Linked DNA regions of Homo sapiens. The protein of the gene in region 3 purifies or fractionates together with the protein of the main gene of each other region. This does not show direct contact. Each region holds a gene or a part of one and is shown on either strand. Other genes may lie near its edges. The genes, in order: SEMA6B, RIPK2, GXYLT1, OMA1, MSLN, P4HTM and ADPGK.

Region 1 (4,105 bases), on a different chromosome or scaffold from region 3:
CCCCCAAACAGCCATGGCCACGTCCACGTCCCCACCCAATTGGTCCTAGCCCGGCCTCCAGCCTAGCCACAATTATCCATAACCACGCCCCAAATAGTTCTGGCTATGCCCACACTTCTGCCCCTGTCAGTCCTACCACCACCCCCAGCCTCGTTCCAACAAGCCCAGGCCATGTTCACACGCCACCCAATAGCTCACTCCCCACCCAATCGATCAGGTCCCCATCCCGACCCCTCCCCTATCAGTCCTGCCGCCCCCCACGCCCCCGGCCCGCCCCAATAAGCCCAGGCCACGCCCACCCCACCAGCTCTGGCCACGCTCCCAACTTGGCCCCAATCAGCTATAACCGTGCCCACCACGCCCCAGTTAGTTCTGGTCACGACCATGCCCCACCCCAATCGGCCGTGACCACACCCAGGGCGGATCCTTCTCCTCCATCCCAGGTTAGGACTCTGCTATTGCCATGGTTATGCCCACAGTCTGACAATGCCCACCATCCTGGCCTTGCCTGCGTTGCTGATACAAAGTGTTTCCCTGTCTGGGTCGCACCGTGTCCCCAGCCAGTCCTAGGTTCAGCCCCTGCCTTGGCCATGCCCACAACAGACCGGCCCTCCACCCACACAACTCAGGTTCTGGCCACGCCCATCACCATGACCACGCCCACATCGCGCTCCCCGCTTCCTCCTGTCCCCACCTCAGGGCGAGTGTCGAAACTTCGTAAAGGTGCTGCTCCTTCGGGACGAGTCCACGCTCTTTGTGTGCGGTTCCAACGCCTTCAACCCGGTGTGCGCCAACTACAGCGTGAGTCTTCAGACTCCCTGCGCCCCAGGTCCAACCTCCAGGCCTCTGCTCGCCCGACCTCCGCTGGCCATGGCTTTTCCCCAGGCCGTGTCACCTCCTCCAGGAAGCCTTCCTGGATATACTCTCCCTGCCTCCTCCCCCTGAGCTCAAGAGGAGTCAGCGCTGTCCAAACGAGGCCTGTACAGGGGGCCGGGGAAGCCGTAGCTACTTAGGTAATGAGCCAGTTACAGGTCTAACTAGGCATTGACTCTTAAACCCATTTACAGATCAGTAAACTGAGGCCCTGAGAGGTTAAGTGAGTGGCCAAGGTCACACAGTAATCCGTGGTGGATCAGGATTCCCCCTGGAGTGGGGGGCTGAGGGAGCCAGGGGCTGCTAGGTGGGGTCAGGAGATCTGTCACTCAGGCCCCATGGTCCCTGCAGATAGACACCCTGCAGCCCGTCGGAGACAACATCAGCGGTATGGCCCGCTGCCCGTACGACCCCAAGCACGCCAATGTTGCCCTCTTCTCTGGTAAGTACCCCCCCAACCTCCATCTGATCAGCCCCAGCCACAGGCAAGACCTGGCATTTTCTACTCCAGCGTCTGGGTTGTTTAGAAGGCAGCTGGACGACCACTTGTCCCAGCTGTGACATGGGCAGACTCTCAGCCCAGGTTTGGGGCTCAGCTGGGATTGAGGCTCAGCGGGATTTGGGGCTTAGCCGGGGTCAGGGGCTCAGTTAAGGTCAGGGCTTGGATGGAGGTGGGGCTTGGATGGGATCAGGGCTCAGCCTGGAGACAGGGGCTCCCCTAGGCTCAGGACTCAGTCTCAGAAAATCGAGTTTCGACCCACCCAGCCCCTGGCCTCTGCGGTCTCATCTCTTGCCTGCCTTCCCCACCCACCCCATCCAGACGGGATGCTCTTCACAGCTACTGTTACCGACTTCCTAGCCATTGATGCTGTCATCTACCGCAGCCTCGGGGACAGGCCCACCCTGCGCACCGTGAAACATGACTCCAAGTGGTTCAAAGGTGAGACCAGGAAGGGCAGTGGGCCCAGACCTGGCAGGGCCCAGAACCTGACATTCATCAAATCTCCCCACCAGAATAAGAGTCCCAGAGGAGCTTGGTGGAGAGATTTCCACCACATCTTTGGAATCTGTTGGCCTTTTTGAAGACTAGAAAGCTAGAGGAACAAGTTTAGTTGGATCTAAAGTAGAACCCGCTGGAAGTGGGTGGCTTAGAAGCCCAAAATGGAACCACAGAAAAGATATAGCAGGACTCAGCTCTTCAACACATGAGGGAGGAAGATAACAAAAAATAGTTGATGTTGCCATTTGCAGCAAGAGACACAGCGATTTTAGGCTTCTGACCTCCCTTCCCCTGCAAAATACCAAACTTTGAGTCTGTTTCATATTGTCTGGGTAACCAGCCTATGTCCCCCCTTCACCATAAAAGCCAGTGAGTTCTTAGCCCCAGAAACCCCCTTTGTCATGTCAGGGGCTGAGTTCTGACCCCTCCTGTCCTGCAGAGCCTTACTTTGTCCATGCGGTGGAGTGGGGCAGCCATGTCTACTTCTTCTTCCGGGAGATTGCGATGGAGTTTAACTACCTGGAGAAGGTGAGGCCGGTGCAGTGGGGCATGAAGTTGAGAGGCTCTGATCATGCGAAGTGAGGGGGCAGAGGTGGATCCATGAATCCCTGCATGGGGTGAGAGGGTCCTGCCCTCCATTTCTGGTCCCCAGGGCCTCCTTTCCAGCCATGATCAGGCCCTGAGGCTGAAGACATCTACGGAGCAGCCGTGGAGCACTCAGCCCTGACGAGGGACTTGAGTTGGAAGTCAGATACACCTGGTGCTGTTGCTGTTCACCTGTCCACCCACCCACCCAGCCACAATCACTTATCCATCCTTCATCCCCTGTCCATCCGTCTACCTGCTCACCCTCCCACTTACCCATCTGTCTGTTCTTCAGCCCACCCACACTTTCATGAGCCCATTAATCCATCTACTCATCTGCCCACCCACTCACTCATCCACCCACTACCATCCATCCGTGCACTCATCCATCTGTCCATGCATCCATCCACCCATCGATTCATCTAGCCACCCTTCCATCCTATCCATCTATCAGTCCATCCACCTATCCATCCATCTATCCATCATCTGTCCATCCATCTGCCAATCCATTCACCCATCCATTCATCCATCCATCCATCCCATCCACCCATCCATCCATTTATCTACCCATCCACCAACACACCCACCCACCCACCCACCCATCCATCCATCCATCCATCCACACATCCATCCATCCATCCAGCTGCCAATCCATCCACCCATCCATTCATCCATCTACCTATCCACCCACCCATCCATCCATCCTTCATCTATCCATCCATCTGCCAATCCATCCACCCTTCCATCTCATCTATCCATCCATCTCATTCACCCACTCATCATCTATGCACCCACCCATCTATCCATCCATTTATCTGCCCATCCACCCACACACCCATCCATCCATCCATCCATCCATCCATCCATCCATCCATCCATCCACTCACCCATCCAACCATCCACCCATCCAACTCACCTATCCATCCATCCATCCATCCATCCATCCATCCACTCACCCATCCAACCATCTACCCACCCAACTCACCCATCCATCCATCCATCCATCCATCCACCCACTTATCCATCCATTCATTCATCCACTTATTCACCTATCCATGCATCCATCCATCCACTCACCTAGCTTTCTCTCTATCCATCTGTTCATCCATCCACCCACACATCCATCTACTTATCTACCAATTGCTTGATTACCTTGTTCTCCTTCACCATCTCTTCCATTATCTATCATCCTTCTTCAGATGTATTTATTTATCCATCCACCTACTCATCCCTCCATTGTAATCGTCCGTCCATCTACTCATCCACTCATCCGTCCATCCAGGCAACCAGGCAGTGCTGAAGTGCACAGACTGCCACTAACTACTATTGTGACCTTGGACCAGTCACTTCCTTTTATCTGTGCCTCTTATCAGTGTCCCCACATGTACAATGGGGGGATATCAGTAGGCCCCCCTCGGGAAGAGTGTAAGAGATGTGAGAATAAAATGTGGGTCTTCGTGGAAACAGTGATGATTATGGTTGTCACTGTTGCTATTATCATCATTGACATTCCCACCGGGAATTTCTGCCAGGGAAGCCGGTGCCCAGAGAGGAACGGTGACTGGCCGGGGTCCCACCAGAGCCAGGGTCAGACTCCTCCATCACAGTTTGGGTGGTGAGTGGCACAGCCTGTGAACAGGCCTTCCT
Region 2 (4,105 bases), on a different chromosome or scaffold from region 3:
AGCTAATGAAACTATGTTTAGAGGGTGATCTTAAGATGCTAGTGCATATAAAGTGACTGACATGTAATAGGGTCACAGTGGAAAGAAGAATGCCTCTTAATGGGAGGAGGAAAGAGTGTGTGAAGTGTCACTGAGACTTCTGCAGCATGCACTCTCTATTGTTCTTAGTATCCAGGAATCTTCAGGGTCATCCTCTATTGTTGGCCTAAATCTCTTGGGGCAGATATGGAACTATTTCCATCTAGGGAATAAACATTTAATTAAAATGGGTCTCACAAACTGATACTGGTTTCCTAGCAGTTGGAGTATTAAGTGATTGAAGGACAGAGAATGAGAGAAGCTTTTCACTTTATGCCTTCTTGTTACTCTTGAATTTTAAGACATATAAATATATGACCTATTCAAAAAATAAATGACGAAGATTCTTTTGCTTTGTTTTTTTGTTTGTTTTTAAAAGTAGTCCTCTTAGTCTGGTCTAGAATGTCTGTTGCTATTCATATTTCAACAGCCATTCATTCAGAGCTTGGGAGGTGTAAGAACTAACTTATCATCATTACTTACCTAATAGGCTTCTCCTGGAAACATTTCTATTTCTGTCATTGCTGCAGCCAACATCCAGTCACTCAGGGTAAAAAAATAATGACATCTCCAATTCCTTTTCATTTTTTTTTTAACCCCCTACAGTCAGTCACTACAACGCGGGCATTCTATTCACTTAGTGTTTTTCTTTCCATTTCCACTGCTACCTTTGTAGTTTTAGGTTCATGTATTAACTGGTATTAAAATCTCCTAACACCTGACTTTCAAACTCTACCACTTTCTACTAATCCTACATCTTGTTGCCAAATTGATCATCTTAAAATTGTATTCTACTGTCATTCCCCAACTCAAAAACTTTCAGTCACACCAGGTACATTGGCACACCCCTGTAGTCCCAGCTACTCAAGAGGCAGAGTAGGGAGGGCCAGTCTGGGCGACATAGCAAGATCTGGTCTGTTAAAAAAAAAAAAAGTTTCCAGTGTGTATTCTGTATGTTAAAAAAAGCAAACAAACCGTCAATCACTTAGTGACTGCTAAGTGAAGTTTCACCACCCTAACCAGGCTTTAAGACTGAGATATGTCCCTAACCTGTCTTATTCACCTTCACTCCTTTTATATTACATAAAAGGAGTGCATTAAACAATTCACAATTTCCCAACTTTAGCCTTCCCTTTAATTTCCTTGAAATCATTTGATACCTACCTATTGGACGTCTGATACAATTGAGCCCAGGAGTTTGAGGCCACCCTGAATAACATAGTGAGACCTTGTCTCTACAAAAAAAAAATAGGCACGGTTGCATGCCTGTGGAGCTAGCTGGCTGCTGGGGAGGCTAAGGTGGGAGGATGGCTTGAATCCAGGAGTTTGAGGCTATAGTGAGCTGTGATCACACCACTGCACTCTAGCCAGGGTGACAAAGAAAAATAGAAAAAAAAATAGTTAAATATATATTTGTTTTACATATGAATAAACAAATGAACCTGGGAGCCAGTTACCCCAGCAGTCTATTAATATTATTGAGCATTTACCTGTTCTCAGTGATCTTTTCCTGAGTTCTGGTATATAATTTATAAATATTACTGACTTTTATGCAGCTATTGAATCTATAACATTTAAAGGTTTTAATATTCAGGATATTTGGAAAATGTTTATATGGTATGCAACCATAAAATTTAATATAATATTCTAATAAAACATGCTCATTTGAATACAATGTAAACTTAATCATGTAATTAGTTCAAGCACCAATTGTTCTAACATAGATAGACTTTATAAATTTAATACTATGTTCTTTCCCATTCCTGGGATAAGTACAATAATAATAAACCTGTGTTTAGCACTTTTACCTGTCAATGGCTTATAGAAGTTAGTTTGGTCTCTAAACAGACCTGTGGAATATATAGGGTAGGTATTATTTCTATTTTAAATATGATGAAACTAAGGTGCAGAGAAGTTGCATAATTTACATGAGGTCACATAGCTAATTAATGAAAAAAAATCCAGGCTTAGTCTTATAGGCATGATAATTGTATATTTTTTTATTACTTGAATAATTATGCATTTTTTTTTCTTAGTGAAAGAAAGGATGTCTTAAGAGAAGCTGAAATTTTACACAAAGCTAGATTTAGTTACATTCTTCCAATTTTGGGAATTTGCAATGAGCCTGAATTTTTGGGAATAGTTACTGAATACATGCCAAATGGATCATTAAATGAACTCCTACATAGGGTAAGTATTACACAGTTTTAGTGGCCATAATTGCCATTTTTACTATTCAAACTATATTTTACTTTGATTTTATATTTGGTCAGATTATTTAGGGGTATATAGATGAATCAAAGAATAATGAAAAACTATCACAGGGATAAAATTTTACCTTTTGTGACATTTTTGTGTTGATTAAAACACTGTGGATTCAGGCCCTGTACTCTAGATTATTTTGCCTGGGTTACCATTCCTAACATTTATACCAAATTATAGTATTTACATGCATATTACATGGGTAGAAATGGAAGAGATAAACTCTGCATACTGTAAAATCCACTGTTAAGTGATATTTTATTTTATATTAATAGCAATTTCAAATTCAAATTTAATGTTATTAATACCAGTTCATAAAGTTCTGAATTAGCAGGCCAAATATTAATAAATTATCTCTGAATACCAGATACATTAGCTTTTCTAATAATAGACAGTGGTATCAGCCATTTACCCTTTTTCCCAAGGTACCAGTCACTCTCTCTTTGATTATGAATCCCTTGAGTAAACAAATTCAGGGGTCCTCATTCTCAAAATACATGTATTCATTATTAATATTATCATGAGTCTGTAGTTTCAGTAGATCTTTTTAAACTACTTGGTCCATTTTTTGAGGGTTGGCTTAATTAAAACTGTATTAATCTACAAAATCCAATCAATAGATACTCATAAATGATAGTGTAACACAATGCCCTGTAAGTGGCCAAGGGAAAGTGGGTGCCACTGTCAGTCAGTCATAGAGTAACTTCCTCTCAGTTTCAGAATACATCACATTCTATTCATGACTTGTGACCATTTGAAACAAGGATGGAATAAGTAACTGGTGTCAGTCTGTAAGATTTGTATAACTACCACAGAGCCAAGATACAAATATTAATAAATCACAATTTCTCTTTTATTTTTGTTGAGAAATGAGTATAAGTAGAAATCTAACATTTTCTTCCCACACCCCAGCAGATACTCTGGCACCCAAATTTGCAGCTCGCTGGAAATTCTACAGCCTCCTCAAGGGGGATTGCTAACTCCTGGAAAAAAAATCATAAAATATACAGTGAGCACTTCTCTCCCTTGTCTCCATGATCACAAGCCCCCATATTATATTATGCTGCAGAGAGGCCTGGTAACTGCTTTAAACTGCATAATTTTCAGAAAAAGTTACCTTTTTTACAGATTAAAAGATTAAGTTTCTCTAGGGGACAGGCCTCTGTGTATGCCAGAGAAAGTAATGTTCCACGTCAGCTTTTTGTGTTTCTTTTGGTTTCCTGTATTGCATTATTTAGGGTGGGATTTATCTTGAAGTGCCCTCCCCCAACCTCACAAAATTCATTGAGAAAACTCAAGATGTATCATAAACAGTCTAAAATATTTTGAACCACTCCCCCTGCCAGATTGATCACTGAACTATAAGCTGACGCATTTGCAGAAAAACTTCTCAAGAACAGTTTTGTACTTTCAGTAGAAGCAGTCTTTTTCATAGCATTTAGAAAAATGTGGTATGGTGCCTGGTGATTCATCGTGGATCTTCCCAAATTGCCTGATCTTCCAAAGTATGTTCATTCTCCTGGGAAGCCACATTAACTTTTATGTTCAGAAAACATTTATTTTAAGAAAACTCAGATGGATATTATTTGAGTACTATGAAAAATAAAATGTTATGTTTTAAATGTGTCTGTTCTATACAGTTTTAGAAACAAAAATGAGTGTCCCTTCCACAAAAACAAAACAAAAGGCTAATTTTATAAGCTGGAATGCAGATAAATTAATTATATGATTAAATGTATGATAAATTAATGCTTAGTCAATAAAT
Region 3 (4,105 bases):
GTTACAAACAACCCTGTTCTTGCTCCTTGGGAACATACTCAGATTTGCTTTGTTTTCAAATATTTTATTATACTTAGGATTGTCGAGATGGTCCTGCAAAATTTATTGATTGTTAATTCCTTTTCTCATATATTTTTATTTTTCTTGATCTTTATATCTATAGCAAAACATTGTCTTGGTTTTTCCTACCAGTTTTACAGTTTCTAGCACAGATCTTAAATTTTAGAAATTTAGCAATATAACTGAGTTACTTATAATCACTTTCCAAACTGTTTTATACAGATCCACGATTGTTGCTTCATGGTTCTTAACCCATGTACAGCCACAATAAAAATTTAGGACAAAGGTCATAGTTTATTTATTTGCCTTGCTGTCACCTGGTTCTTACTACTTGTGGCTGTTCATTTCGAACCTGGTGTATTATAGTTATGTATATTAAAAAGTTAAAATAGGTCCAGGTGTGGTGGCTCACGCCTGTAATTCCAAGACTTTGGGAGACCGAGGTGGGTGGATCACTTGAGGCCAGGAGTGTGAGACCAGTCTGACCAACACAGTGAAACCCCATCTCTACTAAAAATAGAAAAAATGAGCTGTGCATGGTGGTGCATGCCTGTATTCCCAGCTACTTGGGAGGCTGAGACAGAATTGCTTGAACCAGGGAGGCAGAGGTTGCAGTGAGCTGATATTGGGCCACTGCACTCCAGCCTGAGCTACAGAGTGACAATGTGAGTGAGACTCTGTCTCAAAAGAAAAAAAAAATTAAAAAATTTAAATTCAAATAATTTAATTTAATGAAATAATTATTAAATTAAATTAAATATTAAATACAACTTTTTAAAAATCATAATTTTTAATCTCATAATTGTATATTTGCTAGATAATGAATAACATTGGTTAAATGATTACGTTCTATTTTGCAGTATCGTATTTGCCGTGTTGAATCCCTATTAGGGTATTTATTTTCTCTCCTTCTAAAAAATGTATTACTGTATTTCTTAGCCTTTTCCTGTTTATTAGAGAAAAACCAAAGAGTATAAATTAGACATGGTGGGAATTTTTTCTTTGTTTACTCTGCCCTTTTCAGCTTTCTATATATTATTTTGTAGAGTATTTTTTTGTCTGTTTGCTCCACCTACTGAGGGCAGGATGTGTCTTTTATACAGCTTTATATTAAGAATATTTAGCACAGTGTCTGACATAAAGTAGCAACTTGATAGATAATTGCTAGCAAAGGAGAGTCAGATGAAGGTTTTAGAAACTAGGCCATTAATGAATTGAAAAATACTGGAAAAGGGAACACTTTGTATGAAGTAGATACAATGCTTTTACATATTTGTAAGATGTATGTGATAAAGAGTTTTCTTGTGTTAGTACATAGCTTATGAGAGCAGAATAACAACAACGAACATCTTGCCAAAGGGGTAGAACTTTTTAAAGTGAAGTAACTAATCTTTGGGAATTGATGAGTTCCCACTTTTTTGTTGGAGCATAATGTGAATGCGCTTTAATTTTATATGTATGTATAGGACAGGCTGATAATGACAGTCCATTCATTTTCAAAGCATGCTTAATTCAAAAAATGAAACTAATTGATCTTGATGTAACATACATGTATTTGGTCATAGGTTTGCTAAATTTTGTAAAATTAGAACTACAGTTTTCTGTTTTAAATGTTATGAAACTAAATTGTGCTTATAAAGATTCAAAAAAGTAATTTTATGTAGAATGAAAAGACAGGTCTCCCCTTGACATATCTCTTCACACTTTCATGCCTCCACCCAGAGTGACACTATAAACTTGGCTATGTGTTCTTTGGACCTTTTAAAAAGTGCATTTTGAGGCTGGGTGCAGTGGCTCATGCCTGTAATCCCAGCACTTTGGGAGGCCGAGGCAGGTGGATCACTTGAGGTCAGGAGTCCTAGACCAGCCTGGCTAATATGGTGAAACCCCATCTCTACTAAAAATACAAAAATTAGCCAGGCATGGTGGCAGGTGCCTGTAATTCCAGCTACTCGGGAGCCTGAGGCATGAGAATCACTTGAACCCAGAAGGTGGAGGTTGCAGTGAGCCAAGATTGCGCCACTGCACTCCAGCCTGGGCGACAGAGTGAGACTCTGTCTCAAAAAAAAAAAAAAGTATTTTGAAACAAGCATAGGTGTGCATTAGCATTTAGATATAGGATTCTTTTATACATCTTCAGCTTTTTTCATTTAGTAAATATATAGTTGACTGACTTCTATGTCATTACACATAATCACATTTTTAATGTGTGTATGATGTGGAGAATGGATGATTTTATTTTCTCTTTTTGTGTGTACCTAGTATGGATATGTAGTTGTATGGCTGAAAATATATTTTAAAATTCATATTTTCTTGACTATACTACCGGTGTGGTTAAAAATCTTTTCTTATAATTTGTAGCCATTTCTGTTTCTTCTTTTGTGAATGGCTGCTTGCCCATATCCTTTGCCCACTTCTTGGTTTTCTCTTTCTTATTGACTTGAACTCCTTTTATATGTAATACCTCTTTATTAAACTCATTTCTCATAGCTTTTCATTGGTTGTCTTGGATAATCTAGGTTATATCATTAGCAAATAATACTAGCGTTATCGCTTCTTTTCCAAATAGTTTTCTAATGGGACTTTTTTCTTTAAGGTTTTTTTCCCTTTTTATTTTTTTCCTAAGACTGCAGTGAACTCTTAATTTTGTATTTCATTGATGCTCTTTGAATAGGTACATTTCTTGTAAGATATATATTCAAATATATATATTTGATTTATATTGGTTTTTATAATTTAAATATGTATCTGTATTTCTGTGTATATTTGAATAGATAGAATCACATGAAGACTTTAACATGGTGTTGTACAAGGGCTCCACCAGTTCTGTCTGTTGAAAGTGTTCCTGGTTTTTGTCCTTGTGTAATTGATATTTTTCTTTTCAGATCCTAAGAATATTTCCTTAACATACTCAATGACTTATTTCTAAGAGTTATCTTTTCAAATTGTTTCCTTAAGTAAAACTTGTTTTAGTCATTTTCCAGATTAAAAAAAATTCTGATTATAATTACTATTTACTGTGTTCTAAGAAATTTCACACAAGGATAATAATGCAGTTGTAGCACATCAATTTAAGTATGTGGATTTTTTTTTTTTCATGAATTCTGGCCTTCTCTTTTTTAAAGGATAGATTGTTTATATCGTCACTGAATTTAATATAAATTATAAAATGACTTATAACAATGTTTCTCAAACTATGGCAAAAGATTAATTTTTAAAAAATTTTCAGTATGTTATGAGCCAATACTTTTGTAAAAGAGAGATTACTAGAGAAATATATTAAGTACACATAAAACTGTTAACTTGCTGTAAAAGTTTCTAAATCTTACTCTTAATTTCTATACTTAATTACTTAATCTTATTGAGGACATAGAAAAAATTTACATAGTAGCACACTATGTGAACTGCTGTGAACTGCACTATGAAGAATACTGGTTTTTACTCTGGATAGTCCCCGAGTCACATAGATCTAAAAGGCCCGGTATTCACTTCTACCCCTTCCAACACCAAGTTCTCATTGGACTCAGTTTCTTGCTCCCTTAAGTATTTAACTTTGGGTTTTCAAATAACAAGTTTTGAGCATTAAGAAAAAAGCATTACATTCAGTATCTGAAAAAGCACTAAATTCAGTATCTTTTTTATTTTAAAAAAGCATAAAATATAAATTGATAGATTATTAGTATTATATTTTTATCTCATTTCAAAAGGCAGCATTGTGCTTAATGGCTAAACAGTAGGAGCTTTCCAGTTAAAATGAAGATAAGGATATCTATTAATATTACCATAACTTTTTTTTATTTGAGACAGGGTCTCATTCTGTTACCCATGCCGGAGTGCAGTGGCACAATCTTGGCTCACTGCAAACCTCCACCTCCCAGGCTCAAGTGATCCTCCCACCTCAGCCTTCCAAGTAGCTGGGACCACAGGCGTGTACCACCATGCGTGACTAGTTTTTTGTACTTTTGGTACAGGGTTTCACCATGTTGCCCAGGCTTGTCTCGAGCTCCTGAACTCAACTGATCAGCCTGCCTCGGCCTCCCAAAGT
Region 4 (4,105 bases), on a different chromosome or scaffold from region 3:
ATAAATAAATAAAACAAAGTTATGGTTCCAATCATCAGAACATAGTATAGTAAAATTAATATAACAAAAATTAAAAGATGGATAACCACATGAAAATTAAAATTCCGCACATGTAAAGCAAAAGAGAAATCTATAAACAATAAGAGGATGGCTTGTAATCAATGAACTTTATAATGATGTAGTTATATTTTCATGAGTTTTTACTAAATCTGTATTTAAAGAAAACTTTATCAGTTTAAATGTCTATATTAGAAAAAGAGAAAAGAAATATAGAACTATAAATGTCTCAAATAGGGAAAATATAATTAATAAAATTAAGCAGAAATAAGCAAAATGACAGTAGTTGATTCTTTGGGAAATTTAGTCAAAGTCATAATCATTAGATTAGTTAGACAAAGTAAAATGTAAATAGGATCAGGAGAAGAGGTACGGTAACATGCAAGAAAACTGAAATATTTGGGAGAATGTTATTTTTAGTTAGATAATGTTAATTAATAGCTCAGGTCAAAATCAGAAGTAATTAAAGTATATGTGTGTTGAGGGGGGAGGGGAATTGCTAGAGTGGATGCAGCTAGGAGTAGAAATTATAGCTAGAATGAAGCTTCTCAAATTACTAATTTACAAATTACAAATTACTAAATTACTTTAGAAAGAAGTAAGGTATAAATAAATCAAATTTAAAAAACTATTAGAACCCATAGAGTCATAATAAATTAGCAAAGAAAAGGACGCCTAGCCCTGATGGGATTTAATTTGGAGAATTTTTTCAGAAGTTCAGAGAACAATTGCCTAGTTACTAATTAGTTCTACCTTCAAAATGTAGAAAGGTATGTTATTAAGTTTCTGATTCATTTTACAAGCATAAATGATTTTGTTTTGACAATTTGATAAAAACAATAACTTTAAAAGAATTTATGGACTGGGGTCATTAATTGACAATACGATATTATATTACAGTAATTATTTACTGTGAGCAAGTTAATTATCCTCAAATGCATGAGCAGCATCATAAAAGAAAAGCTATTAAAACAGAAGAGGAAATTTAGGACTCATCTTCAGTTCCTCTTTCCTTCACTTCTGTGTCCTATTCATGAAAAAATCTTGACTGCTTTAACAAGTACATTAAGAATCTGTGGGCTTCTCAACTTCGCCACTGCTCCTTTCCTAGTAAAAGTCACCATCATCTCCTCCCAAGTTACCGCAGTCATTTCCTGTTGTCACTTTTCACCTCACGATGTCACGTTTCACCTCAACTCCTAACAACCTATTTTCAATATGTAGCCAGAGTGATCATTGTAATGTCCTTTCCTTGGTTAAAACCCTCTAGTGGCTTCTCATCTAACTTAGAATAAAAATCCAGACTCTTCCTATGTCTTCCAGGCACGTAATTTGGCCACTGCCTAGCTCTCCAACTTCACCACATGCCCCTTTCCTTAGGCTTTCCTTGGTTTAGGAAACATACAAGACCAGGGTATGTCCCCCATTAAGCTAGTGTCCTCCTTACAGCTCTTCTACTTGCTGATTTCTCTGTCTGAAACATTCTTCCCTCAGTTCTTTAGGCAAATGTCACTGTCCTGGGGAGGCTTTCTTTGATCCCATAATCTTAAATCGCTTCCCTTCCATGTACTCATTGTCCGTCCAACACACCTCACTCTTTAGTTTCTTCATGTACTTAACTAAAATTACCTTATTTGTTTATTGGCTTTTACCCTAGTGTGTAAGGCCTTTGTACACTGCTGTATCCATAGTACCTATGAGAAGTTGAGATGATTAGTGAATATTAGTTAAATGATTGCATGATGTGTAATAATAGGCAGGATAAGCAATATAATAGTGGGTGAAAAATAGAAAAATTGGCAGTAGAATTGAACAGTCCTTCCACTCCCTTATAGAAATTTAGCATGTAGGACATTAATAGTTGGTAACGGGAGAAAGATGGTCGCAGGAAATAGTAATATAAAGATAACAGTGGTCTTAGGAGTCTTCGGTTTTAATTCTGACTCAGCCATGTAACTTGGAGAAAGTTACCTAATCCAACCTTTAGTTTTCTTCATATGTGAAATCAGGATAGCAATATCTCCTAGATGTTGGATGTACATACTTGTGCATTTCTGTAGGTAAGGTCCTGCTGTCTTCTTTGCCTTGTCCCCCTCTCTTTGGCATAGACATTTTAATGATAAGTATTTTATGTCAGGCCCAAGATTTCAAAAGTGGTTCAAATTCCAATGTCAATTTAGATGTGTAAAATACCTCACGCAGTGAAAGGCACATAGAAAGTGAACAGTAGATGTTAGTTTCTTTCACTCATAGTTGTAGTCTTTAGGCTGGCTAATTCTATATTTAACTTCAAATCTTCCTCAGGATTCTCAGAACCATATATTCTTGCTATTAAAATACATTCCTGCTTTTTCTTAAACCATAAACTCCTAAGAGTATTTTCTCTATGACATTTATCATAATGATTTATTCATAGCTGGTGTTCTATAAATGTTTGTTTAAAATTTAGCATGCGTTTGTTAAGTGCCTGTTATGTGCAGTGCGTGGAGTTAAACACAGAAAACAAAGTAAAGGAAGTGGAAAGACATATTCTAGCTATATGGTAGGAAAATTTTGCTCACTTTTGAAGAGATGAAGATATATTTAATAAGATAGATTAGAATTTATAAAAATAAAAAGACATTGGCGCCCTGAAATATATAAAATGAATATGGAAAGGAAAGGAAAAAAGAAAAAATAAGTTACCAAGACATCCAATAGAATCTTACTATGCAAAGTAGATGAAGATTTGATAGAAATATGTATGGTCATAACAGGATTCTGCTTGATAGATATTTGGGGAGGAGAAACAGTTCACACATGAAGAAGTAGTGATAGAAAACCTGTATGAAGAACATATAGTGTTTCTAGCAATTAAAGAAACCTAGCTCAGACATCTCCAAAGTACATTTATTCAGTAAAAAATTTACTCAAGAAATATCATGTGATACAAAAAAGCATGAGCACAAAAAGCATGTAGAGCAAAAGCGGTAGAAACAAAACAGGTTCTAAACCCAGCTTTTTTACTTCCAGGCCAGCTTTTTTTTTTTTTTTTTTTTTTTTTTTTAGTAGTAGACTCTTTTATTTTTAGACTCTAAAGCTTCAACTTTTAATTGAGTAGAAGGTATAGAGATTTCCCTTATACATCTGTCCCCGCATACTCACAGCCTCCCATACCATCAAAATCCCATGCCAGAGTGATAATATTAGTTACAATTGATGAACCTATGTTGACCCATCATTATCACCCAAAGTCCATTAGGGTTTACTCTTGGTGCTGTACATTCAGTGCATTTTGACAAATGTATAATGACATGTATCCACCATTATAGCATCATGCAGAGTAGTTTCACTGCCATAAAAATACACTCTGTGCCTACTCATTCCTCCCTCCCCCTAGCCCCTGGCAACCACTGATCTTTTTACTGTCTCCATAGTTGTGCCTTTTCCAGAATATCATATAGTTGGAATCATGTAGCCTTTTCAGATTGGCTTTTTTCTCTTAGCAATATACGTTTAAGGTTCCTCATATCTTTTCATGGCTTGATAGCTAATTTCTTCTTAGATCTGAATAATATTCTTTTGTCTGGATATCCCACAGTTTATCCATTCACCTATCGAAGGAAATCTTGGTTATTTCCAAGTTTTAGCAAATAAAGCTGTTAAAAACATTTACCAAGCCAGCTTTTTGTTCCTTGCCCGGCATTTAACTTCTCTGAGACTCAGTTTCCTCATCTGTAAAATTGAGCTGATATTTTCTAAGGATTCTGAGGTTTGAAATTATGTAATTATCTATATAAAAGTCATGAAATGTTATGTGAATAACTGTGAATAACTCAAGTATGCCTGTATTACTGGTGACATTAAAGGTTGATAAAGCCTTTCTGGTAGAAAGCAGTTTGGTCCTATATAACAAAAAGTATAATCTACCTGTGCTTACTCTTTGATCAGATCATTCTATTTTGGGTGTTAGACTTCACATATCTCCAAATGGAGGTGAGAAAAGATTTTTTTAAAGAAAAGTTTTTATAGCAGGGTAATTTATAAAAGCCAAATAGACACAACTGTG
Region 5 (3,419 bases), on a different chromosome or scaffold from region 3:
CACCCTGGCCAGGGACTCCCTGGCTCACCCAGGAAGGACTGGATCTTCACGAAGTATTCGGACCCGTTCATGTTCTGGAAAGCAAGGCGGGCCTTGGGATAGAGGACGTCCAGCTGCCTTGGGTCACACGTGTCCAGGTCCTGGGGCCTGACCGCCCTGGGGACACGGTGGGTGGACAGTGAGCGCCAGCACACGGACCCACCTTGCCGGGCAGAGTTCTGGGGACTCACCAGATGCTGCTGGGGGGCACGGAGCTCAGCTCCTCGGGGCTGAGGGAGCACAGGTACCCAGGGTAGAAGGCGGTCAGGGTGTCTAGGGTGTCTTTGTCTAGCTGGCCCCTTCCCTTCACAAAGCGGTCGATCAGGGTGGCCACCTGTGGGAGGGGCCGCCGAGGAGCCTTGTGGCAAGGAGAGATGTATCCCTCCACCACCAGCATAACCTCAGGCCGTGCCCCTGACCCCAGGCCCGCCCAACCTCAGGCTTTGTCCCCCACTCTGCCCCTCAGCCCTTCCCAATCTCATGCCACATGACCCCCGAGCCGGACGGTCACCTGAGGACTCATTTCGTGCCCTTTGTTGACTTCAAGCAAAGCCTTCAGGGTCTCCAGGGACGTCACATTCCACTTGCGAATGTCCTCAGGGCTCATCTTGAGGAAGAGGTAGCCCAGGTGCTGGATCACAGACTCGGGGTAACCTTGTGGGTAGAGCTGCAGGCCAAGAGACCAGGAGGGCCCATGTCACTCCCAGAGGGGCTGGGGATGGCTTGGACACAGCAGGCCGGTGGGAACTTGAGTCATGAACTACCTCATCCAGTTTATGCTTTAGGACGTCCAGCTGCTCGTAGGTGAAGGGGATGGCGTTCACGCGGTCCATCTGGGTGGCCAGCAGGGCCGCATCCACGCAGGCTTCCAGCTCCCACTTCTTGTAGAAGATGAGGCTCTCGTCTATCTCGCGGGCCTTCTTGCCTGAAGGACAGGCTGTCTCTGCAGGGCACAGGGGTCAGGGGTCAGGGCCGGAGTTCGTTTGACCCCTTCTTCCTCCCACACCTCCTGTGAGATGAGACCTCGGGCCATTTGTGACCCTCCCTGTGCCTCAGTTTACCCACTGGCAAACAGGGATTCTGTCCACTCTCTGTGATTATAATGGGATGTGCTGCAGAGCCAGGGAGGGGCAGGTGAGACCCTAAAGTGATGCCCACCCCCAGGGGTGCTGCCCAGCCTGGTGCCAGACTGCGCAGGGCACGGCACTCACTCTCCACTTCCCGCCGGAACCGCGGCCGGAGGATGGTCCGTTCAGGCTGCCGCCAGGATGGGTCCCGAGAGGAGCGTTGCCGCCACGCGGCCACGATGCCCTGAGGACGAGCAGGACCTGGGCTGAGCCTCGGGTGGCCGGGCATCCCCACGGGCTGGGGATTGGGGTCTCACCTGCGGGATGCTGCGGATGATGGGCTGGCCCAGCACGGGCAGCAGGCCCCGCAGAGCGTCCATCGTGGAGACAGACCATGTCGACGGGGGGCTGTGCAGACACGGGACACAGCTCAGGGACCCCCCACGTGCAGCCCCAGAGAGGGAAGAGGCCAGGCCGTACCCCCTGGCTGTGGAGGGGACGCTGGGGGCATTGGCAGGGGTGGTGGCGGGGGTGACTGACCCTGGGCCTTGAGGCATGGCCGCAAGTGTCCTCACGCTGCTGATACCACGCCGCCAGGTGAGCCTTCGAGGTTCCAGACACCTTCACTTACCCGTAGGGGGGTCCCCCGCCCTGCAGAGCCGCCCTGGCTGCCTCCTGCTGGTCCTGGTCCAGGGGTCCCGGGCAGCTCACCAGCCGGGGTAGCAGCACTTCGGCCGACTCGGCCACAAAGCGCCCAGGCAGGTCGCAAGCCAGGCCTCCCAGAGCCCGCACATCAGCCTCGCTCAGCAGAGACCCCCGCACACCCTGCAGAGAGGCTGGCCTCAGCGCTTTTGGAACTGCCGAGCCCTCTCCGCCCCGCGCTGGCCCCAGCCCCTACCCAGCAGGCCAGAGCCGCAGGCAGCAGCCGCTGTCGCTCGGGAGCCCCCCTCGGGAGCAGGTCCACATTGGCCTTCGTGATGCGGGAGAAGAAACGGGTGCAGGCCTGGGGCCCCGAGAACGCATCTGGGCTGTGAAGAGAGGGTGCTGGGGACAGGCCGCACTGATCACACCCGTCCCCACCCTGAGAGGCAGCCCGGCCGGCCTCCACATCTCTGCTGTGGCCTGGGATCCGAGGCAAGGGGCAGGGGGTTGGGGGCTGAGGGCTGGCGGCAAAAGCCGGGGGGGTGGGTTCAGGGGGCAGGGCCTACTTGAGGAATAGCAGCAGGTCCAATGGGAGGGCGTCCAGGTCCTCGGGGGGCTCAGAGAGCCGGTGAGCCAGACAGCGCAGCTGCAGGGGCAGGGAGTCCAGCACAGAGCGTTTCGAGCCGCCACTCACATGGTGGGCCAGGGTCGCCTGGCCAGTCTGCCCACCACAACACACCCCTGCCCTGGCCACGAGAATCTGTGGAAGTGGATCTCTGGCCGCCTGCAGCGCTGCCCTGGGGGATGGGGGCTCCCGTGCCTGGCTCCGCTCCCCTTCCCCAGATCTCACCCACTCCCCCGAAAAAGATTCACCCTTGGGGCAGAGCCTGGAGGGCTGCCCACGGCGCTCCAGGAGGGGGCCCAGCACACAGCGTCATATCAGACTTGCTCCTGGGGAGCCAGCCCCTGACGTGGACAGGCACCCCAGTGGTCAGCTTGGGTGGCCAGAGGAACTCTGGGAAGAACTGGCCGGGGAGAGATGGCAGCAGGGACAGAGGGGACCGTGGTGGCAAGGTGGGCACTGCAGAGCTGCCTGTGAATTCCTCAGCCCCAGCTGTGCCCACCTGCCTCAGCCCAACTGAGACTGACCTGCTCTGTTGAGAGCTTGACATTCTTCTGTGCCAAGGCCACAGCCAGCTCCCGGACACGCTCCGTGCTCAGGCCGGACACCTCCGCACACGGGAAGCCAAGGAGTTGGCGAGGGGAGAGGCTGCAGGAAGGGTCGGGCTGGGCACCCACGATCGCCCCTCCCCTGCAATGTCCACCCAGTGCTCCCCAAGCCCCACAGCCCCACCTCTCCCCAAAGGACCCTGGTGCTCCCTGCAGACCTCCCCCCAAGACCAGGTGACGCCCTCAAGGGCCGGGAGTTGCCATCACCTGAGGGGTGTCAGTCCCTCCCGCAGTCCTGAGCCCAGTCAGATCTGAGGTGGAGCAGAGGAGGAAGGGGGAGGGGATGCTGGGGGATGGGGTGCCCTGCCCACCCTCAGTCCCGAGGGCCCCTCGAGCCTCACCCTTGAGGACTGTGAGGACCCCAGACCCACCTGGAAATGTTAGGTGGGTTGGCCAGGACTCCGTCCAGGGGCGCAGCCTCCTGGGGACACAGGGCCTGCT
Region 6 (4,694 bases), on a different chromosome or scaffold from region 3:
AGAAAAGGTATGAGAAAGCCATGAGATCCTTGGTAAAATTATGGTTCTGTTGGTTGGTTTATTATATTTAAGAATTTAGGAGATTTGGTCTGGGTGTGGTGCCTTATGTCTGTAATTCCAGCACTTTGGGAGGCCAAGGTGGGTGGAACACCTGAGGTCACGAGTTTGAGACCAGCCTGGCCAACATGGTGAAACCCTGTCTCTACTAAAAATATAAAAATTAGCCGGGCATTGTGGCGGGCACCTGTAGTCCCAGCTACTTGGGAGGCTGAGACAGGAGAATTGCTTGAACCCGGGAGGCGGAGCTTTCGGTGAGCTGAGATCACACCACTGTACTCCAGCCTGGCGACAGAGCGAGACTCTGTATCAAAAAAAAAAAAAAAATTATAATTAAAAAATTAAAACTAAATAATAATAAATAAAAATACAAAAAAAAAAATTGGCCCGCCATGGTGGCGCATGCCAGCTACTTGGTAGGCTGAGGCAGGAGAATTGCTTGAACCCGGAAGGCAGAGGTTGCAGTGAGCCAAGATCGCGCCACTGCACTCCAGCCTGGGCGACAGAGTGAGACTCCGTCACACACACACAAAAAATCTTAGAAGAAAGAGGTGGGCCTGCCCTTGGAGCCCCTGGCCTGCCTTGACTTGAGGGGACTAGAAAATGCAGACTATGCTTTGCTATGGGGAAGGGAGAGGAGATGGGAGTAGAGGTAGTGGGGGTCTTAACCAGGGTAGGGAGAAACCACCAGTGTGACCTGCCTTAAAAGTGTTGCTCTTGCCTGCAAGTCCACCTCGGGGAGGGGGGTCAGCTTCTGCCCTGAGGGCGTGTAGTAATCTCTTCCTGAGGATAACCAGCTCTAGAAGAGCAGGGATGCCTTGGCACTTGACCACTGGTAGGTATGTCCTCCCCCCACCCCCGTTTTTGGTGATAATCTGTTTAATTTTTCTCTGAGGTAATGGTGTCTCAGTTATGGAAGAGTCCCTTCCCGCCTCTTCACACGTGCCAGCTTTGATGCAAGGAGTGTTCCATATACCTGAGCACTGGTTCATTCCTGCGGGCTGCCATGGGGGGCTCACTTTCCTGATGCCAGGGCTCCTCCAGGATGCCCCCTCTGACGGCCTATGAAACCTTGCACATCAGGCAGCTTCTTCCTAAGGCCTGCCTGACTCCGGCGAGACTTCCCGGGAGATCCGGACCGACCGCGGAACCGAGCTCCAAGAATGCCTGCGAGGAGGCTGTGGGTCCTACCCTATCGCCGCTTACGCAGTCCCAGCCTCCGCGGCGCCCCCAAATGCCGCACTGTTGAGTCATCTCAGCGCTGCCTCCTCCGCGCTGCGCTCCCCACCCCCGCTCCTGGAGCAAGAAGATGCAGACGATACTTTTCCCGGAGGCAAGAGGGCGTCTTCACGCAGGCACCGAGAAGCTCCCACTAGTGTATGCCTTAATGGTGCCGCTCTTGTCCGCGTCTACGCTTGGGACCTTGGCTTCTGACTTGGAGAGTGTACAGCTCTGCCCGACGGCAACCCAGCTTGGGAAGAGAAGCCCCAGCGTGGGCTGGGGCTCAAGGCGCAGGAAGGCCGAGCCCGGCGCGGACGCAGGCGGCTCCGGGCGGGCTCAGCACCCCCAGGCACCGTCTCCTAGTGACCGCGGCGCTCGCGGGCCTGGCGGCCGTTGTCCGGGCGACTGCGCAGCGCGGGCACCCCCGCGGCCCCTCCCCTGGGCGCGCGCGCGACCTGGGTGCCATGGCGGCAGCGGCGGTGACAGGCCAGCGGCCTGAGACCGCGGCGGCCGAGGAGGCCTCGAGGCCGCAGTGGGCGCCGCCAGACCACTGCCAGGCTCAGGCGGCGGCCGGGCTGGGCGACGGCGAGGACGCACCGGTGCGTCCGCTGTGCAAGCCCCGCGGCATCTGCTCGCGCGCCTACTTCCTGGTGCTGATGGTGTTCGTGCACCTGTACCTGGGTAACGTGCTGGCGCTGCTGCTCTTCGTGCACTACAGCAACGGCGACGAAAGCAGCGATCCCGGGCCCCAACACCGTGCCCAGGGCCCCGGGCCCGAGCCCACCTTAGGTCCCCTCACCCGGCTGGAGGGCATCAAGGTGAGGACCTCCCTGCCCCGCCGCGCTCCAGGCCCTGCACGGCTGAGCCCGAGAGGACCGGCGCTCAGCCCGGGTCCCCACGCTGCCCCCGGCGCTGCTCTGCGTCGGTCCCGCGCGCTCCCACTCACTCGCCTGCTGTCGCTCTCCGGGCCGGGGCGACTTGGCCCTTCTTGGGCAGCGCGGTCTGGCGCCCCAGCTGCCCGCTGTGCGCCTTTTCCTTAGGTGGGGCACGAGCGTAAGGTCCAGCTGGTCACCGACAGGGATCACTTCATCCGAACCCTCAGCCTCAAGCCGCTGCTCTTCGGTAAGTCCGCCAGATACTCCTGGGAAGGGCCAGGGGCTGCGGTTTGGTGGCCACCTTGAGGCTCGTTGTGACCACGTGACCTCTATTTTGAAAATGGCTGCTTCAGAGCAGCCCTTCCAGAGGATTACCAAAGTGAAGGACCTTCCCCGTCCTCGAAATAGGGTAACACTCCCTCTTATCCCAACTCCCTGCAGTCCATTCTTCCATCACAGGGCTGGCAGGGTGAGCCTGAGGCTGGTGTCTAAACGTTTCATTGCACCTGTCTTCCGTGCCACCATTAATTCTGTCACCTTCTAGAACTGGGAGGAAGGTGGGAGACTGATAACCAGCTTTCTGCCGACCTCAGGACCTCTGGGGAAAATCCCACTGCCGAAGTGGGCCTTGTGGTCTGATGAGAAGCAGGCCGTCCAAATGTAGATAAACTGGTACCCCCCCAGCCTCCTCCACTGGAGTACCAGTCAGAGGCTCAGCTTTTGCTGCCAGCACTCTGAGATTCTTCTTAAGGTGAAGTCTTTGTTCAGCCATCATGGGCAAAGCTTTCTAGGGTGACTCCAGTTGGAGCCACAACATAGCTCATCGTTTCTGAGCTCTAGTTATGTGCTTGCCTTCATATGATTATTTCATTTAATTCCTGCAACCCCTCTGTGAAGTGGGTGTAGATCCTACTCAGGCCAGTGAGGGGGAAAGTTAGGGACAGAGAGCTGCTGTGGCTTGGCCAGGCTGACACGGTTACTTCAGTGGTGAAGCTAGGATTAGAACCCACATAGCCTGCCTCTAAGGCCTATGCAGTAAAGCCACAGTGCGAGCTGTGAAGACCCCAGAGTCCTTCAAAGACCACCAGTGTCAACTGGGTGGGGACCCCTAGTCCCATGGACATTGTCCAGGGTGTTTGTGTAGCCCAGCCCTGGGTACCTGGCCTCCGTGACAAACATATTTGCAAACCCAGGGCCATTCCTGCCTGCCGGGGGATGGAATGGGTTAGGAGCTGGGGCCAAAGTAGAACATCTGAGCACAAGTCATTACCTCCAAGGCAGAGGGTCCTGGTTGGGGATTATGCCTAGACCTGTCAGAATGATGTCATATGCATGCTGTTTGTAGGGAAATAGATTATGCTGTCAGTCCTGTTGTGGGAGAGGCACCCAAAGCTGGTTGTTGTTATTATTACTATTACTATTGAGTAACGTTGAAGTCTGTGCCAGGCACTATTTTAGGTGCCAGGAACACAGCATTGAACTAAATATAAACAATGAAACAAAACCCTGAAGCTGACATTCAAATGAAGAGGAAACAGACAATAAACAAACAAATAAATATATACATTGGTGTGTCAGATGGTGATATGTGATTGCAAACAAGTAAGGCAGATTTTTTTTCTTTTTTCTTTTTTGCCAACATAAAATAGCAGACAGGGCCGGGCGTGGTGGCTCATGTCTATAATCCCAGCACTTTGGGAGGCTGAGGCAGGCAGATCACTTCAGGTCAGGAATTTGAGGCCAGCCTGACCAACATGGTGAAATCTCATCTCTACTAAAAATACAAAAATTAGCCGGGTGTGGTGGTGTACACCTGTAATCCCAGCTGTTCAAGAGGCTGAGGCATGAGAATTACTTGAACCCAGGAGGCAGAGGTTGCAGTGAGCCAAGATCGCACCACTGCATTCCAGCCTGGGCAACAGAGAGAGACCCCTATCTCAAAGAAAAAAAAAAATAGCAGACAGTAAGGCAGAAGTTCAGCTGGGATTAGAACTCTTTTTTTTTTTTTTTTTTTTTAGACTAAGTTTCTCTCTTGTTGTCCAGGCTGGAATGCAATGGTATGATCTCAGCTCACTGCAACCTCCGCCTTCCGGGTTCAAGTGATTCTCCTGCCTCAGCCTCCCAAGTAGCTGGGATTACAGGCATGCGCCACCACATCCGGCTAATTTTTTGCATTTTTAGTAGAGACGGGCTTTCACCGTGTTAGCCAGGATGGTCTCAATCTCATGACCTCAGGTGATCTGCCCTCCTCAGCCTCCCAAAGTGCTGGGATTACAGGTGTGAACCACCATGCCTGGCTGGAACCCTTAATAAGGTAGCCAAGGTGGACCTGCCTGAAAAAAATATTTGAGCAAGGCTGGGCGCGGTGGCTCACGCCTGTAATCCCAGAACTTTGGGAGGTCGAGGCGGGTGGATCACCTGAGGTCAGGTTGTTCGGGACCAGCCTGACCAACATGGGGGAACCCCGTCTACTAAAAATACAACATTAGCAGGGCGTTGTGGCACATGCCTGTAATCCCAGCTACTTGGGAGGCTGAGGCA
Region 7 (4,105 bases), on a different chromosome or scaffold from region 3:
GTAGCTGGGATTACAGGTGTCCACCACCACACCCAGCTAATTTTTGTGTTTTCATTAGAGATGGAGTTTCACCATCTTGGCCAGGCTGGTCTCAAACTCCTGACCTCATGATCCACCTGCCTCGGTCTCCCAAAGTGCTGGGATTACAGGCTTGAGGGTGTTTATAGTTTTTGAAGTAGTTATTTTCAAAGACAGGTTTCCCTCCATTTCTGAACCTTTACTCTTCAGACTCGGGACCCAAATCCATTTGGATACAATTTTTTTAGACTGGGCTGTCTGGAGGAAATGGTATCCCTCCTTACTCAAGCCCTCACTGTCTGAAACTTAGGAACCTACTGGCGTCTGAGAGCTACAGATACTTGTATTCCTGTTGATTCTACCAATCTAATGTTGCATTCATTAGAAATAAAGGGCACCATGTCTGAGGTAAAATTGAGACCAGTTTGCAAGGTGTGTTTGGTTTCTTAACATTGAAGGTTGTGAAAGGAAAGATTTTAAACATATCTTTAAGCAACTGCCACGTGCATGTCCAGAATGGCCCCTTCTGTGTGTGTCATGGAGAAGTTCTGGCTTATATTTTCAGTGTTTCTTTACTAGAAATCATCCCTCTTTTAAAGAGAAGGGCCAAATACAGTAGCTAGATGTTTTATGCACTGAAAGGCATAGTAAATCTTAGGTTATGCTTCTCCAGTTGACCAGAGTCATTATGTGTGTCTTGAACAAGAAACTGAGTATTTAAATGCTATTTGATAGGCAAAACTCCTTTCAAAACATGAATCCCTAGGGGAAGAATTAATAAAAAGGACCCTTATAATGAGGATGCAGTCTCTTTGTGTCTTGAGGGAGGATGTCTCTTCCTTGCCCTTGTAAATCTTCCTTAAGTGATGTAAATAATATCTAGTCTGCATACAAACCTTTTTAAAGTTATGTCATTTTAAAAATTCTAAAAGGAATACAAGCATGTTAAAAGTAGAAATATACCTGGTAAAATTCCTCTTCATCCCAGTCTCATTCCTCTTCATTTTTGAAAGAGACTAAAAGGGAAATACAACTATGTATTTTACACCAAAATCTCATCCATTGGGACATTTTTATTAATGAGTTTACCTTGTGGTTTCAGAGCTGCTCAGAATTAACTCTGAAGCCCAGTCACCCGTATCACTAGGGGTGGTCTCAGTTTGCCGGCTGGGAGCTGCCTGTGTGGTAATCCAACCTCACTGGCCAGAATGACATCCCAATAGGCAGAGGCAGGAATAAAGATGACCATGATAGGGGTAGGGGCGGGAAGACCTCATCTAGCTACCTTAATTATTTGAACGTTCTCTTTAAAAGAGGGATGACTTAGCAAAGAAACCCTGAAAATGTAAGACAGACTTTCTCCATACACACATAGGAGAGGTCATGCCAGACAACCTTAGTACAAGTTGAGCATCCAGAATGCTCTGAAATCCAAAACTCTGGGGCACTGACATGATGCCACTGATGTATATTAAGTACTTATATGTGAAAATTCCACCCACACGTAAGGAATAGAAACTTTATTTCATGCACAAAAGTATTTAAAACATTGTATAAAGTTACCTTCAGGCTGTATGTATAAAGTATATATGAAATGTGTTTGGACTTGGGTTGCATTCCCAAGATATCTCATGTATATGTAAATATTCCAAAATCGGAAACACTCTGATCTCAAGCACTTCAGATAAGGGATTCAACCTGTACTTTATAATTTCCATCGAGACAACCAGGAGTGGCAGGTCTTTAACGTTCATGGGTCAGTCCTGTGAACACTGGCCAAAGGGTGAGTTCTTAAAATGCTGCAGGTGTGCCTAAGTCTGTAAAACACCACTAAATTCTAAGAGGCAGGGTTTCAGCTGGGAGTACTCAGGCATTTAGGAATTTATTGTATCTTACCATCCTCATTTGTTTTTAGAGGGAAGATGCCTGATACCTAGCCTTTGACTGAAACACATATTTTGCTTACTCTGCGCCAATTGCTGTTCCTAAGTATACATTCACTTATTTAATCTTAACCATAGCTCTATGAGTTAAATGCTCATATTATTGCCATTTTGTGGATGAGGAAACCGAGGCACAGAGAAATTAGTGACTTGCCCAAGTCACACGGCCAGCATGAATCCTGTTTGGCTCTGCCAGCGTTTTTCTCAGAAATGTTACATTTTTGTTACAGTAGCTTTGTTCTGAAATGCTAAGCACCTATCTTCTCACTTTGTAACTAGTGTAAAAGTTTGCCAAATTATTGAAGAGTCCTGTGTTCTGATGCTAATACATAAATCCAGTTAAAGTAATTTTTCTCCTGCCATGTGCTGTTTACTTCCCAATTCAGGTTTCAGACCTACTTCCTGTTTTTTCTGTTGAATAAGGTTCTGAGAAACATTTTCCTTTTGTTAAATGCAAAATGGCTACTTGGTGCTTCTGCTGCTTTCACACAGTTTTTTTCCTCCTTCTAGAGTCAATGCATGTGTTGATGTGGTGCTCTCAGGGGTGAAGCTCTTGCAGGCACTTGGCCTTAGTCCTGGGAATGGGAAAGATCACAGCATTCTGCATTCAAGGAATGATCTGGAAGAAGCCTTCATTCACTTCATGGGGAAGGGAGCAGCTGCTGAGCGCTTCTTCAGTGATAAGGAAACTTTTCACGACATTGCCCAGGTTGCATCAGAGTTCCCAGGAGCCCAGGTCTGTTTGGTTCAGCAATAGTAAATTAAGGGTGGAAAAAGATGCCTTTTTAATATGGTTCCTAGAAGCAAGCAAGCAACTTTTCATTCCAGTTTGAAGAGGAGGGGAGCAAAATCACCCCTGGTTGAAAACTGTGGGTCTAGGTTGATGGTTCTCAGACTTGAGCATGTGTCAGAATCATTTGGAGAGGCTGTTGAAACACAGATTTCTGGGCCTACTACCAGAGTTCAGATTCAGTAGATGTGGGATGGGACCCAAGAATTTACCTTTCCAGCAAGTTTCCTGGTTGATCCTGTAGGTCTGAGAACCTCCTTTTGAGAACCACTGGTCTGCAAGGTAGAACCTGTCGAAGTTAGAACCTTAGTGGTTTCCAAGTTCACCTGGTGATTATATACAAAGCCCTGCATGGTCCAGGCACTTCCTGGAGGTTCACGTGGAATAAGAGGCAGTGCTGGGGCTGGAGACCCAACCATGGCTCTTCCTACCTCACCCCAGTATGCCTGCTCCTACATGTACCCTCATGCCTCTTGAGGCTGAGTTTTGGTTGGTTGGTTATCTCCCATGTCTTGCCCCCACCCCATTCTTCCTCCTCATTTAAACCTCCCTTTGGCTGGGCACCCAGTCTGGTTTGGTAGTTCTAGCCAGGGAAGCTCTTAATGCCATTTTTAATTGGCACCTTTCACAGGCAAACCTTTGTGACTACTTTTATTTTGATGACTTAAGATTTTAGGCCGGGCACAGTGGCTCACGCCTGTAATCCCAGCACTTTGGGAGGCTGAGGCAGGTGGATTGCTTGAGCCCAGGAGTTTGAGACCAGCCTGGGCAACATGGTGAAACCCTGTCTCTACAAAAAATACAAAAAATTAGCTGGGCATGGTGGCATGTGCCTGTGGGAGGATCACCTGAGCCCGGGAGGTCAAGGCTGCAGTGAACCATGACCGTGCCACTTCACTCCAGTCTGGGCAACAGGGTGTGACCCTGTCTCAAAAAAATTTTAAAAATAAGTTTTTTGTCTTCGAAGCTGCCTATTTGAACATTAGAAATGGACATAGGCATTACCTAGCTGAGTTTCTAAAGGTGACAGCAAGTTAAGATTTCAGTTATCATTTTGACAACTGGGATCAGTAGTGAGATTCTTATCTCTTATGAGAGAATCTCGATAGTTCTAACATGATGAGTTCACTGCTCAAAAGTCTTTATGATTACGGAATTTAAACCACCAGTTTGATTTCTCTTCTCTCTTGATTCTGCCTTTATTTCTTGATGAAAAAAATTTTTACAGCAACTTGATCTAGCTTTGTGATGGTCCAGGTTATTTCTTAACATTGTAAAACCCCTTTCACTAGAGGAGTGCCTTTTCATACTTCCTTATAGTTTAAGGCAGGTTGATAAACATTATATGAAAATT

The links.
Region 1: the proteins of GXYLT1 (region 3) and SEMA6B purify together in Homo sapiens (affinity purification with mass spectrometry; one large-scale study listed by BioGRID and IntAct). This does not show direct contact.
Region 2: the proteins of GXYLT1 (region 3) and RIPK2 purify together in Homo sapiens (co-immunoprecipitation; one large-scale study listed by IntAct). This does not show direct contact.
Region 4: the proteins of GXYLT1 (region 3) and OMA1 purify together in Homo sapiens (affinity purification with mass spectrometry; 2 studies listed by BioGRID and IntAct, with this or other methods). This does not show direct contact.
Region 5: the proteins of GXYLT1 (region 3) and MSLN purify together in Homo sapiens (affinity purification with mass spectrometry; one large-scale study listed by BioGRID and IntAct). This does not show direct contact.
Region 6: the proteins of GXYLT1 (region 3) and P4HTM purify together in Homo sapiens (affinity purification with mass spectrometry; one large-scale study listed by BioGRID and IntAct). This does not show direct contact.
Region 7: the proteins of GXYLT1 (region 3) and ADPGK purify together in Homo sapiens (affinity purification with mass spectrometry; one large-scale study listed by BioGRID and IntAct). This does not show direct contact.

The regions. Positions count from the first base shown.
Region 1 is NC_000019.10:4,552,684-4,556,788, reverse strand, and holds part of SEMA6B (semaphorin-6B precursor), read left to right. Parts: intron 1-699; coding exon 700-801; intron 802-1,224; coding exon 1,225-1,315; intron 1,316-1,693; coding exon 1,694-1,813; intron 1,814-2,312; coding exon 2,313-2,401; intron 2,402-4,105. UniProt on the Homo sapiens protein: Functions as a cell surface repellent for mossy fibers of developing neurons in the hippocampus where it plays a role in axon guidance.
Region 2 is NC_000008.11:89,760,715-89,764,819, forward strand, and holds part of RIPK2 (receptor-interacting serine/threonine-protein kinase 2), read left to right. Parts: intron 1-2,114; coding exon 2,115-2,268; intron 2,269-4,105.
Region 3 is NC_000012.12:42,099,606-42,103,710, reverse strand, and holds part of GXYLT1 (glucoside xylosyltransferase 1), read left to right. Parts: intron 1-4,105. UniProt on the Homo sapiens protein: Glycosyltransferase which elongates the O-linked glucose attached to EGF-like repeats in the extracellular domain of Notch proteins by catalyzing the addition of xylose.
Region 4 is NC_000001.11:58,484,227-58,488,331, reverse strand, and holds part of OMA1 (metalloendopeptidase OMA1, mitochondrial precursor), read left to right. Parts: intron 1-4,105. UniProt on the Homo sapiens protein: Metalloprotease that is part of the quality control system in the inner membrane of mitochondria. Activated in response to various mitochondrial stress, leading to the proteolytic cleavage of target proteins, such as OPA1, UQCC3 and DELE1.
Region 5 is NC_000016.10:763,622-767,040, reverse strand, and holds part of MSLN (mesothelin isoform 1 preproprotein), read right to left. Parts: intron 3,400-3,419; coding exon 3,350-3,399; intron 3,019-3,349; coding exon 2,898-3,018; intron 2,395-2,897; coding exon 2,315-2,394; intron 2,135-2,314; coding exon 2,005-2,134; intron 1,932-2,004; coding exon 1,738-1,931; intron 1,515-1,737; coding exon 1,424-1,514; intron 1,351-1,423; coding exon 1,251-1,350; intron 983-1,250; coding exon 804-982; intron 707-803; coding exon 551-706; intron 398-550; coding exon of another isoform or gene 374-397; coding exon 231-373; intron 157-230; coding exon 29-156; intron 1-28. UniProt on the Homo sapiens protein: Membrane-anchored forms may play a role in cellular adhesion. Megakaryocyte-potentiating factor (MPF) potentiates megakaryocyte colony formation in vitro.
Region 6 is NC_000003.12:48,988,515-48,993,208, forward strand, and holds the start of P4HTM (transmembrane prolyl 4-hydroxylase), read left to right. Parts: upstream 1-1,726; 5' UTR 1,727-1,742; coding exon 1,743-2,096; intron 2,097-2,318; coding exon 2,319-2,400; intron 2,401-4,694. UniProt on the Homo sapiens protein: Catalyzes the post-translational formation of 4-hydroxyproline in hypoxia-inducible factor (HIF) alpha proteins. Hydroxylates HIF1A at 'Pro-402' and 'Pro-564'.
Region 7 is NC_000015.10:72,773,464-72,777,568, reverse strand, and holds part of ADPGK (ADP-dependent glucokinase isoform 4 precursor), read left to right. Parts: intron 1-2,471; coding exon 2,472-2,697; intron 2,698-4,105. UniProt on the Homo sapiens protein: Catalyzes the phosphorylation of D-glucose to D-glucose 6-phosphate using ADP as the phosphate donor. GDP and CDP can replace ADP, but with reduced efficiency.